2 separate regions of the Homo sapiens genome follow, and region 1 is linked to region 2. Evidence: fine-mapped expression QTL. Tissue or cell type: whole blood. Region 2 holds a variant in brackets; the other region holds the start of a gene. All regions are shown on one strand. Distances are between the middles of the regions.

Region 1 (8,105 bases), 170 kb after region 2:
GATATTTTGGAGGAAAAAAAAGAACAATCTGACATAACTGAGCAGGTAGGAGGAAAATGTAGAAATAGTAAAGGAAACAGAAAAGCAAGATCTATGGAAGGACTAGAAGCTAATTCCCCACCCAGTAAGAGGGTATAAGTTAATAAGGGGGAAGAAAACTTGTGGGGCAAGTCCCCAGTGAGGAGAATTTTTAAAAAGTCTTTTGATCTGGTGCTTTTTCAAGGTATACTAACACTTCTTAAGGAATTCATTGGAAGAACAGGGACTCTTCCCCCTCTGGCAACAAAATTGCATGAATCTTCCCTGAAACGAATAGGTCAAAACTGTAGGGAACTTCTTGTTCTATCCAACTTCTGGTATTTACATCGTTTAAGTTCTATTTTCCTTTTCTTTTCATACCTTCTCTAAGATCAGATTTTAAAACCTAGAAGCTTCTGTGAAATAAAGGTTTGTTAGTTTTGAGTGTGATTAGTATGTGTGTGTGTTTGAGAAAGAGAAAGAAATCTGAGAGGTTGATTCTCACATGCCAGAAATCTCATTGCTATAAACTCATATCTATTTTTGACTATGTGAACCTAGATATTCTATCCAGAATCAGAGTTTTCAAAAATGGAATAAAAATAAGAACAACGGTAATATCCAGGGCCCTGAAAACAATAAAGAATGCCATTTTTAACTGATTTCTTCACTTCACAATTGACACTCCTGTACACATAGCTCCACTCTGGGCATTTTCTCAGCTTGCTAAGTTTCTCTTGCCTGCATAATGTAATATACAAGAAAACATGAAGGCAGCTCTCTTTCTTTGTGGTTACAAACAGAAATAAATGTTCCCCCAAAAGCCAACAGACCCAAGGCCAACTTCTCTCTTGGATGACATGCTTAGATACAGAGTTAGTCATGTGCTATCAGGTCACTGAGTCAGTGACAAAGCACTAAGATTGAGGGAGAACATCTTACAATCAGGTTGCCATCATGCACAGAAAAAGAATCGGTAAGTATGGTGCTCTGTATAGGGGAGGGATGGGCTGCACATCTTAAAAGCCATCTCTAAGCTCCTGGAAGCCAGAGCTTACAACTCTGCTTTATCTGTCTAGCACCATGGGCATACTGGGCTTGATGCTCTCCAAAAATGATGACAAATGGAGAATATACTTTCAATAGCACTGGACATTCTTTCTGTCTAGAACTTCCAGGGATGTTTATAGAAGATGCCACCTTTACCCCCAGATGTGTGTGTGTCTTTTTATTTCTTTCAGAGCTTGAACTCTTTTACTCCCCCCATCACATTTCTCTAGCAGTCTTTTGATTTGATTAAATATTACAGAAATGTTAGCATCCAAGAATAATAATTTTAAATTAATACACCTTGCAACATTGTCCTAAAGCATTTCCACATACATTTTCTCGCATGGATATTACAATGTGATAATGCAACACTTTGTATGAGTGGCTAAGGATAAAAGGCCTACAGGTAGAAAATGAAAGCAAAAATGCAAAAGTTTTGGCACTGGGGGAAAAAAATGCCTCTACTCTCTATTCACACACAAAAGGCAGAATGAGATTCCACCTGCTGACTTTCCCTTCCTGCCCGCACAGCACTAGTGCTTATGTCAGAACAAGCTGGGAGAGAGGGAGAGACGACAATTTCACCTCTTGGCAAAGCTCAGCTTGCTGAACCCTTTTGCTTTCTGCTGGCTGTTGATTCAGCAGAAACTACTGCTGCAGAATTCATAATGGTGATTTTTAAAGGCCCCACCGATCGCGTTGCTCACCCCACGTGTCAGCCTCATTCGCTGCCCGCCAGAGCACTATTTCCCCAGCCACCTTTTTATTTTTGCTAATGCACTTCCAAAAGGAAAGAGGTTCGCCCGTCTGCAAAGGGCTTTTTGGGGTTTTGATTGTCTAAGCAGGTAACCTGGCCGGCCGGGGAGATGAATGGGCAGGAAATGAAACCTTGCCCTCCCTGCAGCCACTGAGAGACATAACATCGTTTCGCTCAGGGAGGGGGGACCAAGGTCCTACTGGGCCCCTCCCTTCTTATCTCCCCCCAAGACCCCTGCGAACATCTCGGGGAAGGGGTCATCTGCCTTCCTGGGGTCATCTTTCTGGGCGAGAGCCCCACCCTGAAAAAGCCTAATCCCTGAGGGCCATTTTAACTCCCGTGGGCGCCGGGTCCACCTGCTGCTGAACGCCGAGCTCGCCTCGCGGAGCCCGGATGGATGCGAGGTGCACTGGGGCTGCCGGGGCCAGCCGAGCCCCCGCCCCAGCCCTAGGGCCCGGAGGAGTCTCCGCCACTACGCGCCCAGCTGCCCAGGAAGCACAGTGATCCGCAACTTGCGCCCGGCCCCAACGGCGGAATGCGGCGGGGCTGGCGTTACCTTCGGTCGCATAGCTGTGGTCGCGCAGGAAACTGTTGTTGATTTTGCGGGTATCAATGTCCTCCTCCATTGACAGCAGGCTTACTTGCGTGGGAACCAGAAGCCGGCAGACAAGTATCCATGATCCCTCCCCGCAGCCAGTCTCACAGGAGAGGGGGGCAGGGGAGCCAGTGGGACTGCACCATGGTCCGAGCCTGAGGAGGAGACGGGGAGGCGGAGAGAAAAAAAATAAAAACCCGGCAATGGAGCTGTCACCTCCTCCACTCGGGTTCTGCGAGGCTGCGGCGGCTCCTCCCGCGCGGTGCGCTCACTCCAGCTCCAGTTCCCAGCGAGGATGCTGCGCCTGCCTCCGCTGCCTCCGGGTGCCAAGATACGCCGTGCCCCGAGGGGTCTGGTCCCGCCCGCCCGCCCCGGAGGCGCTCACAAGCGGGTCTGGGGAGATGCCCAACAGGTTCCCCTCCTTGGCAGCCGCTCCAAAATGCAAAAAAGATCCCTCCTCCCCCTGGGAGAGCGGGCAGCCGCGACAAAATGGTGCCTTTCTGGACCCGAGCTGCAGTGGCGAGATGGCAGGGACAGGATTCAGGCTTGCCTGGCCGGAATGAGGGTGCTGGTCCCACGGGAGGGCGGCTCCGGCAGGCGGGGGTAGGGAAGCTGGCGGGGAGCTGGGCAGGGCGCTGCAGCCGGCGCCAGCGCACTCACCCTCACACCCACACGCGCGCACTCGCAGCTGCTGCTGCTGCTGCTGCTGCTGCTGCTGCAGGAGGCTGGAGGCGGCTGGTGCATTAAAGGCGAGGCTCCTCCCAACCGCGTCAGCAGCCCCACGACTCTTTCCCAGCAGCAGTGGTGGCCGAGGCAGAGGCTGCGGCTGCTCTTTGCTGCAGTGGGGCGCATGCAGCCGCGAATCGGCACCTGGGCAGCAAGCGACTAGCTTGCAGGTTCAGGTGGAACGCATAGACGCGCTCTTCCAACCTCCTCCCCTCTCGCGCCACTCAGCTAAGGGCCACGTCTACGCTAGCACCCAGAGCCCCTAGCTCCCTGCCTTTCTCCGGACGCCTGAACTTGAGAACAGCAAAGAGAAGTAGGTTCCTTTGGATAGTCAGGAAGTCTACATCCAGGTCCCTTTTCCTCACCCTTATATGATGCATGTGGTCCCTTGGTGAATTTAAAGGGCGAGGTTTGGGGCTCGAAGCTTCAGAAAAAGAGGAGAAAGTGGGAAGTGCCGCTCAGAGCCTATCTTAAGCCCTCTAGTAGGAATAGGAGGGGGATCAGGGGCCAGAACTTTGCAACTGGTTCCCCCATTCCTAAGAGTCAAAATACCTTCTAACTGTAGGAGGCTGGTGTTCAATAAAGCATCTGTGTCTACACAGGTGGAGGAAAGCACCAGACTAGTAAACAGGATCAGTCTGAAAAAGTCCACTCTCCCTTGCAGTTTGCACTTCGTTTTGGACAAATTATTGCAGCCTCTCCGTTAGGTTTTGCTTGTGCAGGAACACCTTCTATTTGCTGTCAGCATGGAAGGTACATTGAAGCACAGAAACATAAGCATAAGAGCCCTGTGCCCACAGAGAGCCACTGCTACCCTGGGGGAATTTCAGGAGTCCAATTAATACAGAAAAGAGACCTGTCTTCCTACTTCAACTAGGAAGAAAATGTAGAATTCCCTCCCCACCCATGTTTTCCCAAATTTCAAACTCTACTTTTGAAAGAAAATGAGATTACTATTGTTATGAAACAACCAAAAACATTTAATGAAGCAACCCAAATCACTAGAAAGCCAATTTGGAAAAGACATCAACCCCAATCAGTAGAAAGCCAATTGGAAACGACATTTCCTAGGTTTCATCTTGTAGAAGGTATTCATTTCAATGGGTACCACTGTAGGGAGAGACATCAGCAAATGTTTTGCTCAGTTAAGCTCCACAAGTTTAGCTAGATGGGCCCAGAGGGACCTATGAGTTAATTATATACATACAATGCTTCGGCTAACACAATTTAGAAAGTATTTGAAGTTCAGAAAAATGGAAAAACAAGTCCTTAACTGAGGTTGGGAATTGTCATTAGATTTCCATGCAGTATGGATACTTCTGGTAGATAGAAAATGACATCTTCCTCATCTCCAGAAATTGACTGCATATCCCTGGGAGAAAAGAGCAGAAATGTTCCTTGACATAGTTATTTTGTGTGTGTGTGTGTGTGTGTGTGTGTGTGTGTGTGTGTGTGTGTGGTGGGGGGAGTTCAGTTCAACTTTCAATAGATTCTATTTTATTTTCATCTAGTGCTTAAGACTTATACACTTGTTTGTTCAAAATCCACATTTAAAATTTTAGTAACAGGTGAAGACGGGTACAAGTTGATTTAATCCACTTCAGTACAAGTTGTCGTGGCTGGTTCTTCCATGGGATGAGCTGTATCTATCACCGAGGTTCCAACATTCAGTCCTTTTGTAGTTACACATTGCAGCTTCTCTTGGATATTGGCACAATTTGGAGTAGGAGCAGAGTGGGGAAAAGCTAAGTTCATCTCTTAGTGAATCAAAATGATGAGAAGACATTGTGCCTTCGGTTGGAATGATCTTAAAATTGTTTCAGGAGGCCTTGGAATAGTATTTGGGAAAATTTCCCCTGTATCTTTCTGAATCAAGGGCTAGATTGGGACAGAGCTGTGTGATGAATCAGGTAGGCCCAGGCTCATTGGCCAGGCTGTGCTTGAGGAATTTTCCATTGTAACCAATGGGGAGAATGTCCCTTCCACAGATCGAGTCTCTGGGTTTATTTATTTTTCTTTTCACATATGCTGCAAACTTTCTCCTGCATTTATTCAACAGTCCAGGCATTTTTCCTAAGACACATGTTCTGAGAAGGCAGATTGGATAGGTCTCCATTGTTTAAGTAGATTTCAAGGTTTCCATTTGGCCAACTACTCTTTTCTAATATGAGAGAACTAGCTCATCCACCCAAAACCAAGGGGAAAAAAGCTGTTGGCTCTGTGCCATAACACAACGACCTGTGGTGGAGGTAAGGGAGTGAAAAGAGCCCTGTGCACCACTGTGGAGCTGGGGGGCGGGGTGGGGGAGAGAGTGGGGGAGATGGGAGTAGGCTGCAGAGATCAGTCTTCAAAAGACTCACTGGCCACTTCTCTTTTCCTCTAAAATGTCAAGTTCTTTCCAAAAGTGGTGGGCATTTCCGCATGCTATGTTCTTTGCCACTTCCTCATGTCTTGGCATTCAGCCTCTTAACTGTCCCTGCTTCGTTGAGGCATTCCCTGACCACACGATAGTCCTGACTTCCGGTGTTTTCTGCCTCCACATTTTTTTTTTGTCTTTTTCATGTCCTACAGCGTTTTATAATATTTGTTTACTTATTATTGTTGGCCATTTTCACTAGATCTTTTATTTTTATTTTCTTTTTTTATTTTATTTATTTTATTTTTCTGAGCCAGAGTCTCTCTGTCACCCAGGCTGGATTGCAGTGACACGATCAAGGCTCACTGCAACCTCTGCCTCCCAGGTTCAAGTGAGTCTCATGCGTCAGACTCCTGAGTAGCTGGGACTAAGACATGGACCACCACACCCAGCTAATTTTTGTATTTTTCAGTAGAGATGGGGTTTTGCCATGTTGGCCAGGCTGGTCTCAAACTCCTGACCTCAGTGATCTACCTGACTGGGCCTTCCAAAGTGCTGGGATTACTGGCGTGAGCCACCATGCCTGGCCTCACTAGATCTTTTCTATTGACTAACTGTCACTTAGTAGATGCTTAATTATATTTGTTGGAGACAAACATTTCTTAAACAAATGAATAAATTGCTGAATATCTTACTTTAATATTTAGGTTTCATACCTCCCCCCTTCTTAAAATTCATATTAAAATAATCTGTTGTGAGCTGGAAATTTTCTAGCTCATAAGCTGTATTCCTATTGAAATAATTGGTTCGATTTATTCCTGTATGCATATATACGATCAAAATTTACCAAGCAATTATGTAAAGAATTATTCTGGCCAGGTGTGGTGGCTCACACCTGTAATCCCAGCACTTTGGGAGGCTGAGTCAGGCAGATTATGAGGTCAGGAGATCGAGGCCATCCTGGCTAACATGGTGAAACCCTGTCTCTACTAAAAATACAAAAAATTACCCAGGCATGGTGGCACGCGCCTGTAGTCCCAGCTACTCGGGAGGCTGAGGCAGGAGAATTGCTTGAACCCGGGAGGCAGAGGTTGCATCGCACCACTGCACTCCAGCCTGGGAGACAGAGCAAGACTCCTTCTCAAGAAAAAAAAAAAAAAAGAATTGCTCTAGGTGCCAAGGATATAGATTTATATAAAACAGAATTTCTTTCTTCATAGAACTTAAATTCTATCATCTAATTTTAATAACGTGAACTTTCTTAGCAATACAGCAAATGCATTCTATATCGACAGACTATAGTGCAATGTTAAGTGCCAAGGCTCCGATATCATTTTCTGTCACTTATTTTTCTGTCCTCAAGCAAGTTACAAGATCTCCCTAAAGCATCATTTTCTTATCTATAAATTAGGAAAATGAATAGTATTTGTTTCATAGAGTTATTACAAGGATTAAATGAGATAATACGTGGAAAAAATACATTGCTATTACTATGAGTATTTACTTTCGTCATCATCACCATCATCAATGTTCAGCAAATGTGCAAGTACTTAACTATGTCAGACACTGGGATAGGATTATAGATTCAGCAACATCAGTGTATAAGATGTAGTCAGTCTCTGATGTCATGGAACTTAGTGTCTAATTTACAGTTTATGTAAAAGGGGCCATAGTCTTCAAAGGGGGCAGCAGAGGGAACTCTGAAAGACTGACCTATTTCAGGCTTGTGCTTTACATAGAAAAGGCCAATTACAAATACACAGCCTTCTTATGTTACCCAGTTCAGTATTGACAGCATGTGGATACATTCGTTTTTTTAACCACCCTTGTCATGGTCCCCTCCCCCAACACTCACATACCCACTCTTCCTTCCTTAGGCTAATGCTTCCTACACAGGAAACTTTTGGGTCACCCTGTCCAATTAGCACATTAAATATCTATAATTTTATTAAAACCTTTGACCTAAGCCAGTCTGGAGATTCTTAATAGAGGCTTTAGGTGTCAGACAGTCCTGGTTTGTGTCCCAGCTCAGGCATTTATAAATTTCATGACCTTTGGTGAGTAGTTTAACATCTCTGAACCTCTATATTTGCAAAATGGAAGAAAACAATAGTTGCTACTTCACAGGGTTGTTGGGTGGCTTCAGAGGTAAGGAAAGTGCTTAGTCCAGGTTTGGCTCAGAGCCAGCCTTCACTAAAATGACCCTTCTTCCTCCTGCGGTACTTCATGAGATCTCCCACTTGCAGAGAATTGGAGAGATGCACTCCAAGTCAATTGTTCATGTGAACAGAAGTGACCTAGAAACCTCAGTTTTACTGCCTATCAATCTGTCTTAATGAACAATTAGAAACTGGATACATGAAATTTTATCATCTTGCAAAAAGCCCTTTATAAACCATGAAGTCTCCTGCAAATGAAAGGAATCAGGATTATCTTCTCTTGGACTTTCTCATTATGTATGTGCAGACCTAGTCACATTTCTCTATTGTGGAATCATATGGAATTTCTCTCTATGATCACTAAGCACCAATTGCACAACTCTCTCTCTAAGGTGGTTTACGTGCTGTCTAGAGAATGACCTCTTGAATTTCTAGCAAGTTTGC
Region 2 (8,105 bases):
TTAACCACTGCTTCTGGCTTTTCAATGAATGGTTAGCAAAGGGTTATTCATGGGGCTTCCAAATTTGGGTACAGCCTAAAGCGGGCATGTCTATTGCTTTTCACTTTTTGTCTTTGGTCAGGTACAAAGGCTGGTCCAGTTCAAGGCTCTTGAACTGCTCAAATACAAACATTTCTCAGAAAGAAAGAGTAGCAGGAAATAATGAGAGGGTGGTGGGAGCCAGGCCTGAGGTTTACAATGCCTGGCTCTTGTCTCAGAGCTACGTTCTAAAGTTCTGCTTACATGCAGTCTATGCCCTTTCACTGGACAGTGATTAATGCAGAACACTAGAGTTCTGGGTGGGCTGCAAGGGCCTTACAATGAGAACTAAAGATGGGCCTTTCCTTTTGGTGAAGTTGGGTATCAGAAGAGAGTTAAGTAGCTTTTCCCAGTGTGAGCTCTTGGCTCAGTTGCCAAGAAGATATTACTCCAAGGGCAACACTTGCTTTCCCAGGGGATGACACATACATTTTCCTTCTTCCTAGACTCTGAAAATGTCTTTACTCTCACTTTAAGACCCATGCAAGTCAAAACAAGGCAGGATTCAAGTGGAAGTCAAAGTCACATGATTTAAGCCAGTATTATTAGAATTCTGCATTATGGAGTATTAGGCATGGTCCCAGGTAATACAAATATTTCCTTTGTTTTCCAAGTGTTATTATTTTGCAATGCTATGTCTCCCTCAAGAACCTTGTAAGAGAAAGGGTGATTTGCATGGCAGGATTCTGAAATTCCTTAGCCCTCTTGCAGAGTCCTTACCTTTATTTTAATTCTACTAGCCAGCTGCTCTGTACATGAACCTGTTTATATCATGCTATTGTCTACTTCCCTTCAGAGAATAAGCCGTGGCAGCTCAAGTTAATACTTGTTTTGAACTTTCATGTTTCCTGACTCATTTATCATTGCTAAGCCAGTAGGTGTAACTGGAATACTTTACTGCCCCATCCATCTCTGCATATCTTCATCTATGACTGTTTAATAATTGATGCAAAACTCATGAATCATTATACATTCCAATTTCAAGATACTGAAACTTCTGATACAAATACTCTTGTGTTTGCAGCATGCTCTTTGGTAAGGCAGTTTAAACTGGAAAATATACTGCTCAAGACAAAATAATTTTGTGATATGGTAAGAGGATGTAGTAATAAGGTAGCAAGTTTAGAGATAATAACGTCATTTGAAATCATGATCCACAGAAATCAATTCATCAAGTTCAACATGGCTTTCACCTTTAAATTGTAAGTTTATATGACAATTCCACATTTCATTAACTGCTCAGCCTAATCATGCTGTTGATCAAGAAACTACAAACTTGAGCATTTTTCCTCTGTTGTATATAGATGTGGATAAAGTACACAATGACTAAAAACAAAAGCCAGAAACAGCTAGAAAGGTCAGATGTAGTTAAAGTGATTTTTAAAGGAAACCCTGGGTAGTGTGAAGTTTGCCTTGCTCCAAATCTATTTGTGCTGATTTAATTTCCACAAGATGGTGGCCTGGTAACCCCATTTCTAGCTCAATAGGCACTATTAAGGCTGAGTTTATTATTTTTTTTTTAAATCAATCTCAGCATCCTACAAAAGTTCTAGACTGGTAATTTCATACATAAAGTATTATTTACCTGAATAATAGATATTGACTTAACAATGATACGCATGTGAGGCTAATGATTGTGAGGCTTACGGAAACAGAGGAATCTCCTAGTTCATCCCTAGTCTCTTGCAGTATCATGCTAGGCTGGAGTCTATGCAATGCCAGAGAATTGAGTTGAGGCAGGCACCTGGATTATTAGGTGATATACAACTCACATAGGAGGGTGACTGTTTTGATAAAATGGAGACTCAGTTTAGACTTAGGATCTAAACTCAAAGTCTACAGATGGAATATCTTACTGACCAGGTCACTAGCACTGACCTCTCAACATCAATCATAGAGATGGAAATGCAAGGGTAATGCAATTTAGTTTTCAGAGCCCATTAAATGTTTTATCTTTCATCTAAGAAACATTTGGTAGATAATATCATAAAGTCATTTACCCTACTTGCATCAGCTGACTAGTTCTGCCTACTCAATACCTGGCTTTATTTCTGATGACTGGATTGGGTTTTGGTAGTTTTCGCCTTCAGCTAAGATAAGAACAGAAAATATATTTCATAGTGAATGATAATGGTGAAATGATCATAGTTACCAGGTTTGTGTTGAGAAGGTTTTGCGGGGTCACTTCTAGGCTGGGGTGCCATGATTAATGGGTAATGAATCTGGGTGGGTGGTGGGGGAGGTAGGATGTGTATCATTTGTCATCCCAGCACAGAGGCTTCTAGCTAGACTGGCAATGACTACTTTGTGGATCATTAAACAAACGGGATTCTTAGGTGTCCTGATGGGAATTACAGTTGTTCCTCCCATCCATATAAAACTGTGGTCTCCTTCTTGGGTCCTGGATCACGGTCCAAAGTCAGCATCCATTTTCTCTGATAAGGTTTACTTTACCAAAGTAACTTACCAAGTTTTGGTAACTGAAATAGTGCATTTGAGCATATTTTCCACAAATAGGGGGTTGGGGAGGGGATAGGAAAAAAGTCTGGTTATGGCCAAACCCAAATACTCCTACTGGGATTATGCCAAGATGACCTTGTTGAAAGATGTTAATATGTCATAAAATTTAGAAAATAATCAGTCAATAAAACAGTTTATGTCAAATGATTGCAATTTTGTCAAAGTGTTTTCATTTCAGAATATATCTTTTCTCTTTTTTTTTTTTTTGGCAGAGCTAGCTGAGGTTTTATTTTGGACAGAAAAACAAAACAAAACAAAACAAAAAACAATTGAATTGTTTTGTGGCTGGAGGCATGGGCAAGGGGCGGGGGTCCCCAGGCAGTGAACTCCCCCGCGGGTGGGCTGAGGGCTAGGGCTGAGCCTCAGGTAAGTCTCCTGTTCCCTGTGCTTCCTTGCACAGCAGCCTCCCTCCTAGGCTTTGGGGCAGCCGTAGGAGGGGCAGGCTGGGAGGGGCTGCCGCAGCTGTTCACTTGAGCAGGAAATCAGAGGACACCAGCTTCCCATCTCGGGTCTTGATCTTCTTCACAACCATGGCCCTGGTGGAGCTGGTGCGGCTGAAGGAGCTGGAACCTGCGCCAGAGCGAGAGCTGGAGCTCAGGCCGTAGCTGAGGCCAGAGCCTGTGAGGCCCCCATAGGCCAAGCTCACACCACCTGCATAGCCGCTGGTGGTCTTC[G/A]TATGGATACTCATGTTCTCCATCTTCCAGCAGCTTCCTGTAGGTGGCGATCTCGATGTCCAGGGTCAGCTTGATGTTCATCAGCTTCTGGTAGGCACGCAGCTGCCGCGCCATGTCCTACTTGGTCTGCTGAAGGGCGGCCTCCAGCTCGGACAGCTTAGCGTTGGCATCCTTAATGACCAGCTCCCTGCGCTGCTCCGCATCTGCGATGCCGGCCTCCAGGGAAATCCTCCCGCCTTTGAGGCCCTCAGTCTCAGCCTGGAGCCAGCTGATGTTCCGGTTCATCTCAGAGATCTCAGTCTTTGTAAGACGCAGGTCTTCCCAGCCAGCGTCTGCAGCTCCTCATACTTGATCTGATACATGCTCTCGGCCTCAGCCCGACTGCGGTTGGCGATCTCCTCGTACTGTACCTTGACCTCAGCGATGATGCTGTCCGTGTCCAGGGAGCGGCTGTTGTCAATGGACAGCACCACAGACGTGTCCGAGATCTGGGACTGCAGCTCCCGGATCTCCTCTTCATACAGCTGCCTGAGGAAGTTGATATCGTCAGCCCTTCCAGGCAAGACTCCAGCTCTACCTCGTTAATGTAAGCTTCATCCACATCCTTCTTGATGAGGACAAATTCATTCTCCGTCTCTGTACTCTTATTGATCTCATCCTCATAGTTGTTCTTGAAGTCCTCCACCAGCCCCTGCGTGTTGCCAAGCTCCGCCTCCAGCTTCAGCTTCTCCTGGCCCAGAGTCTCCAGCTGCCGCCTAAGGCTGTTGATGTAGCTCTCGAATATGTTGTCCATGTTGCTCCCAGCCGTCTTCTGCTGCTGCAGGAGGCTCCACTTGGTCTCCAGCATCTTGTTCTGCTGCTCCAGGAACCGTACCTTGTCGACGAAGGAGGCAAACTTGTTGTTGAAGGTCTTGATCTGCTCCTTCTCCTGGGTGCACACAGCATGGATGTTGGGGTTCACCTTCAGGTTAAGGGGGTTCAGCAGGCTCTGGTTGACTGGGACGGCAGTGATGCCTCCCATGCCACTGGCCCCACCATAGGCCACCCCGGAAGCTGCTGCTGCCCACTCAGGAGAAGCTCAAGGAGCTGATGCAGACACCAGGCCCACTCGTGTAGGAGCAGCTGCAGAAGGCCCGGGTGCCAGAGGTGGACACCTTGTAGGACTTCTGCACCCTGATGGACATGGTGGAGGCAGGAGTGGAGGCAGGCGGGCTGAACCAGGCGGAGATTCCAGAAGGAGTGGAGAAGCTGCTTCTTGGTAGAATATATCTTTTCTAACAGGTAAAGCAATATGTACACTTACAGAAACTTCTGTTAATGACAAGGTGGCACTTAAAATATAAAACTAAGTTTCCTTTACAATCTGACTCTCCTACAAGTAATTGTTAATGACTACACATACCCACACACTCTCTCTCTATAGACAAAAGTTTATCAGAGAGAATCCAAAATTGTACTTTTTGGTGTAGAACGTACATAATTTATTTTCTTATGGTCTTTTTCTAAATCTTCGGTATTTTCTATATTTTGCCATAACCATAAATACTTGAACAATTTTTAACTTGTAAACAATTTTAATTTGTTTTCAAACTGAATGAAAGATTTTAGCACTCATCTCAGCAGCTTTAAAACTTTTTAAAAATTTAAAATTTATATATAGGCTGGGCACGGTGGCTCACGCCTATAATCTCAGCACTTTGGGAGGCTGAGGCAGGTGGATCCCTTGAGCTCAGGAGTTCGAGACCAGGCTGGGCAGCATGGTGAAACACCATTTCTACCAAAAATAAAAAAAATTAGCTCGGCATGGTGGTGTATGTCTGTGGTCCCAGCTACTTGGGAGGCTGAGGTGGGAGGATCACTTGAGCCTGGGAGGCAGAGGTTGCAGTGAGCCGAGATCATGCCACTGCACTCACACCTGGGCGACAGAGCCAGACTTGGTCTCAAAAAAAAAAAAAACACTGTATATCTGTATATCTATGTATGTGTGTGTGTATGTGTGTGTGTGTGTGTGTGTGTGTGTGTGTGTAAAATTCACTTTTTGTGGCATCCAGTTCTAAAGGTTTTGACAAATGCATAGAGATATGTATCCATAACCACTATCATGATATAGAACAATTCCATTGACCCCAGAAAGTTCCTTCATACTGCTCTTTTTAGTGGACAATTCTTCCAAAAGAAGTAAAATTATGGGAATAAAATGAACTGATAGATATAAGAGCTTGTAAGAGTTAAAAATGCTGTGTAGATACAGTGTCTCTATTGATATGACTCAACTTGATTTGGCACCAATAATTATTTTCTTAGTACACAGAGTCAAAGATTTTTTTTAATCTTTCTGTCTAGATGTTATTACTATTTGGGATTCTGTTTGGATGGTATGGAGCTAAAAAAAATTCATCAATACACTTTTGCCAACCTGCATCCAAGCTACGTTATCCATGAAGTATTCTACCTTTTCACCTATGCCCTTGTCTAAATGGAACTATGTTTGAGTTCCTGATTCAGTAGCGTTACCTTCTTAACTTGACACTGCTTCTCACACTCATTTAGTTTGGTACTAAAGACAGAAGTAGTAAATACACAGTTCTGATTACACATGCCACATGCTTGCTATCCTTGACCTACTGTGTGTAATACGTTCTGTTTGATCCAGAATTGTTTCCTCTGTCATCCAATCAGTGTCTAGTATTTGGATACTGAATATTCTTCCTTTCATTTAATTAATTCTGTGCATACTGGTTTTATCTTCAACCTGGTGCTGGTTTACCTCTTAGATGAAAGAATACAGATAGAAGGGTCCAATAGCTCCAAGTCCCAAGCTCTTATCACAATGGCTGTTTCCTACTTAACCATAAGTGCAGTATTAAAAAATGGGCACTGCTTAAATGTCAGTCTGACCCTGTAGATCAAGCCCATTAATGGCATGTGTTATGTCATGGCAGATACTCTTGGTTGGCTACTCCTACTCAGAATCTTTCTTCCTTGCCTGCCTCCTACTGTCCCACTGTAGAGGCTGGAAAACCCACATACTTGCTTTTTAGCCTCCCTTGTGGCTAGGGGTAATTGTGTGACCCAGATCTGGCCAATGAGGCATACAGGAAAGTCTACTGGGGAAGCAGGAGCGGGACAGAGATTCTGGGAAAGAGTTTTCTTCCCTGAATAAAAGGAAGTAAGTGAGGGAAGGCCTTCTGACCGGACTCTTCATTGCTTCCTGCCTTTGTTTGTAATTAAATGTGTTCATAATACGTGGGGCTGTGGCAGCCATCATGTGACCATGAGGTAATAAGCCTATGGACTTTAAAAGGCTAAGAAGCTGAGTATGACAGATGGGAGAATGGGACAATATCTTTGATGACACTGTTGAACAACTAAAACCTACCTTAAGACAGCCTATGTCTGAAATTGTTAAACCCTGTGGTTTAAGCTACTGTTAGTAAGTTTTCTGTTATATTCATCTAAATTCATGCTACTATACATGTCTTTCCATCTTTGTTTTCCTTATAGCACTTTGCACAGGGCCAGGTTATTAATGCATGTTGAGTTGGAAACTCCCTTGCCTTACAACATATTTGCACAAACTCTCACATGCACATTTCCACTTTACTCTACCACACAACCAATTTTCCTTCCCACTTGCTTGATTCCTAGTATTAAGATGATTTGTGTTTTTCCTCCTTCCCCTGCTGTGGAGATGGTGTATTATTTTTCAACCATTCAGATATGAAAGCAGCTTACTGGGATAGAATGCCAACCCCAATTTATTCATGGTGTTCATTGTAAAATTATGACTTCAGAGGGACCTAGCCACACCCTCTTTAGGAGCCAAGCTTTCCCTGCTAATATGCAGGAAGCCCACCATGCTTGCTGAGCTGTGAAAATCCAGATGGTGGGAAGCAGGTGAGTAATGAATGCCATGCTGTTCCCCTTAAAATGCACACAGCTTCCCCAGGCTGACCAAATCTCCAACACTAAACAGGTTTGAATCAACCCAAGGACATGTGGGTTGATAAAGATTGCCTTTTATTCAAAACAAGTTCCTGCAACATAGAAGCCTAGAAGATAAAATTTTCCCATAGTTGGAACAAAACTTGCCTAAAGGGCAAAGGAGTCTTAAAAATTATAAGTCTCTGAGTACAGAAAAATCCAGTGGGAAATTGATAGCAGTCCAGACTTGCCTACATGCCTGTGTGGTTTACAGTGGAATCTGCTGTCAAGGTGTTTACCATCTGTCACCCAATTTTTCAAAAAGCAGAGGAGTAATTAACTGCTCAGGCAATACAAACTCTGTCAATCATTCAGATCTATTATCCGCACAACATGGGACATCTATGGCTGACCCCAAAGTCAGCAGGACTCCAGGTCCAAAATGAGAAAGTTCTCACATCTGTGGGGGAATGGGAGTTCTTGGGCAGGCCCTGTGCTACCTGCTACCCAAACACACATATTATGGCATCTGGCACATGTTTGGTCAGAAATTTTGCTTTGCCAGATGTTCTGAAGTCAGTAAGACATGGTATCCACTTTGTGGAAGCTAAAATTCCCCATATTTTGGGACTGGCTCAGGTATCACTTCCTTAAGAAGCCCTGTGTGACTTCTTTTAAGCCCAACACAGCTCCCTTTATTATGCAGCCTCATTGCTCCCCATACTTTGCCTTTATAAGTTATCACCACTAATCATTAGCATTTATCACAATGATATTAGAATCATTTATATGCCTGTTTCAGTCTCTTCATTGTAAACTTCACAAGGAACTTGTTCACCACTAAACCCTCAGTGCCTAGCTGAGTCTCTTAGTATATAACAGATGCTTCTCAATCTTTTTTTTTCTATG

Evidence for each region. PIP is the estimated chance that this variant, and not a neighbour inherited with it, causes the effect.
Region 1: it holds the start of PPP2R2B, and the variant in region 2 is fine-mapped to the expression of PPP2R2B in whole blood (INTERVAL, PIP above 0.99).

Annotation. Positions count from the first base shown.
Region 1 is chr5:146,875,621-146,883,725 of GRCh38, forward strand. It overlaps PPP2R2B (protein phosphatase 2 regulatory subunit Bbeta), which reads right to left and starts at 3,137. Exons shown (of 10, transcript NM_181675.4): 1 at 2,971-3,137; 2 at 2,382-2,575. The coding sequence starts at 2,451.
Region 2 is chr5:146,703,143-146,711,247 of GRCh38, forward strand. The region is part of intron 2 of PPP2R2B (protein phosphatase 2 regulatory subunit Bbeta); the gene reads right to left. It also overlaps the pseudogene KRT8P48. Among named protein-coding and RNA genes, the nearest start is that of PPP2R2B-AS2, 140 kb to the left of the region's middle. The variant G/A (reference allele first, on the strand shown) is at 3,273.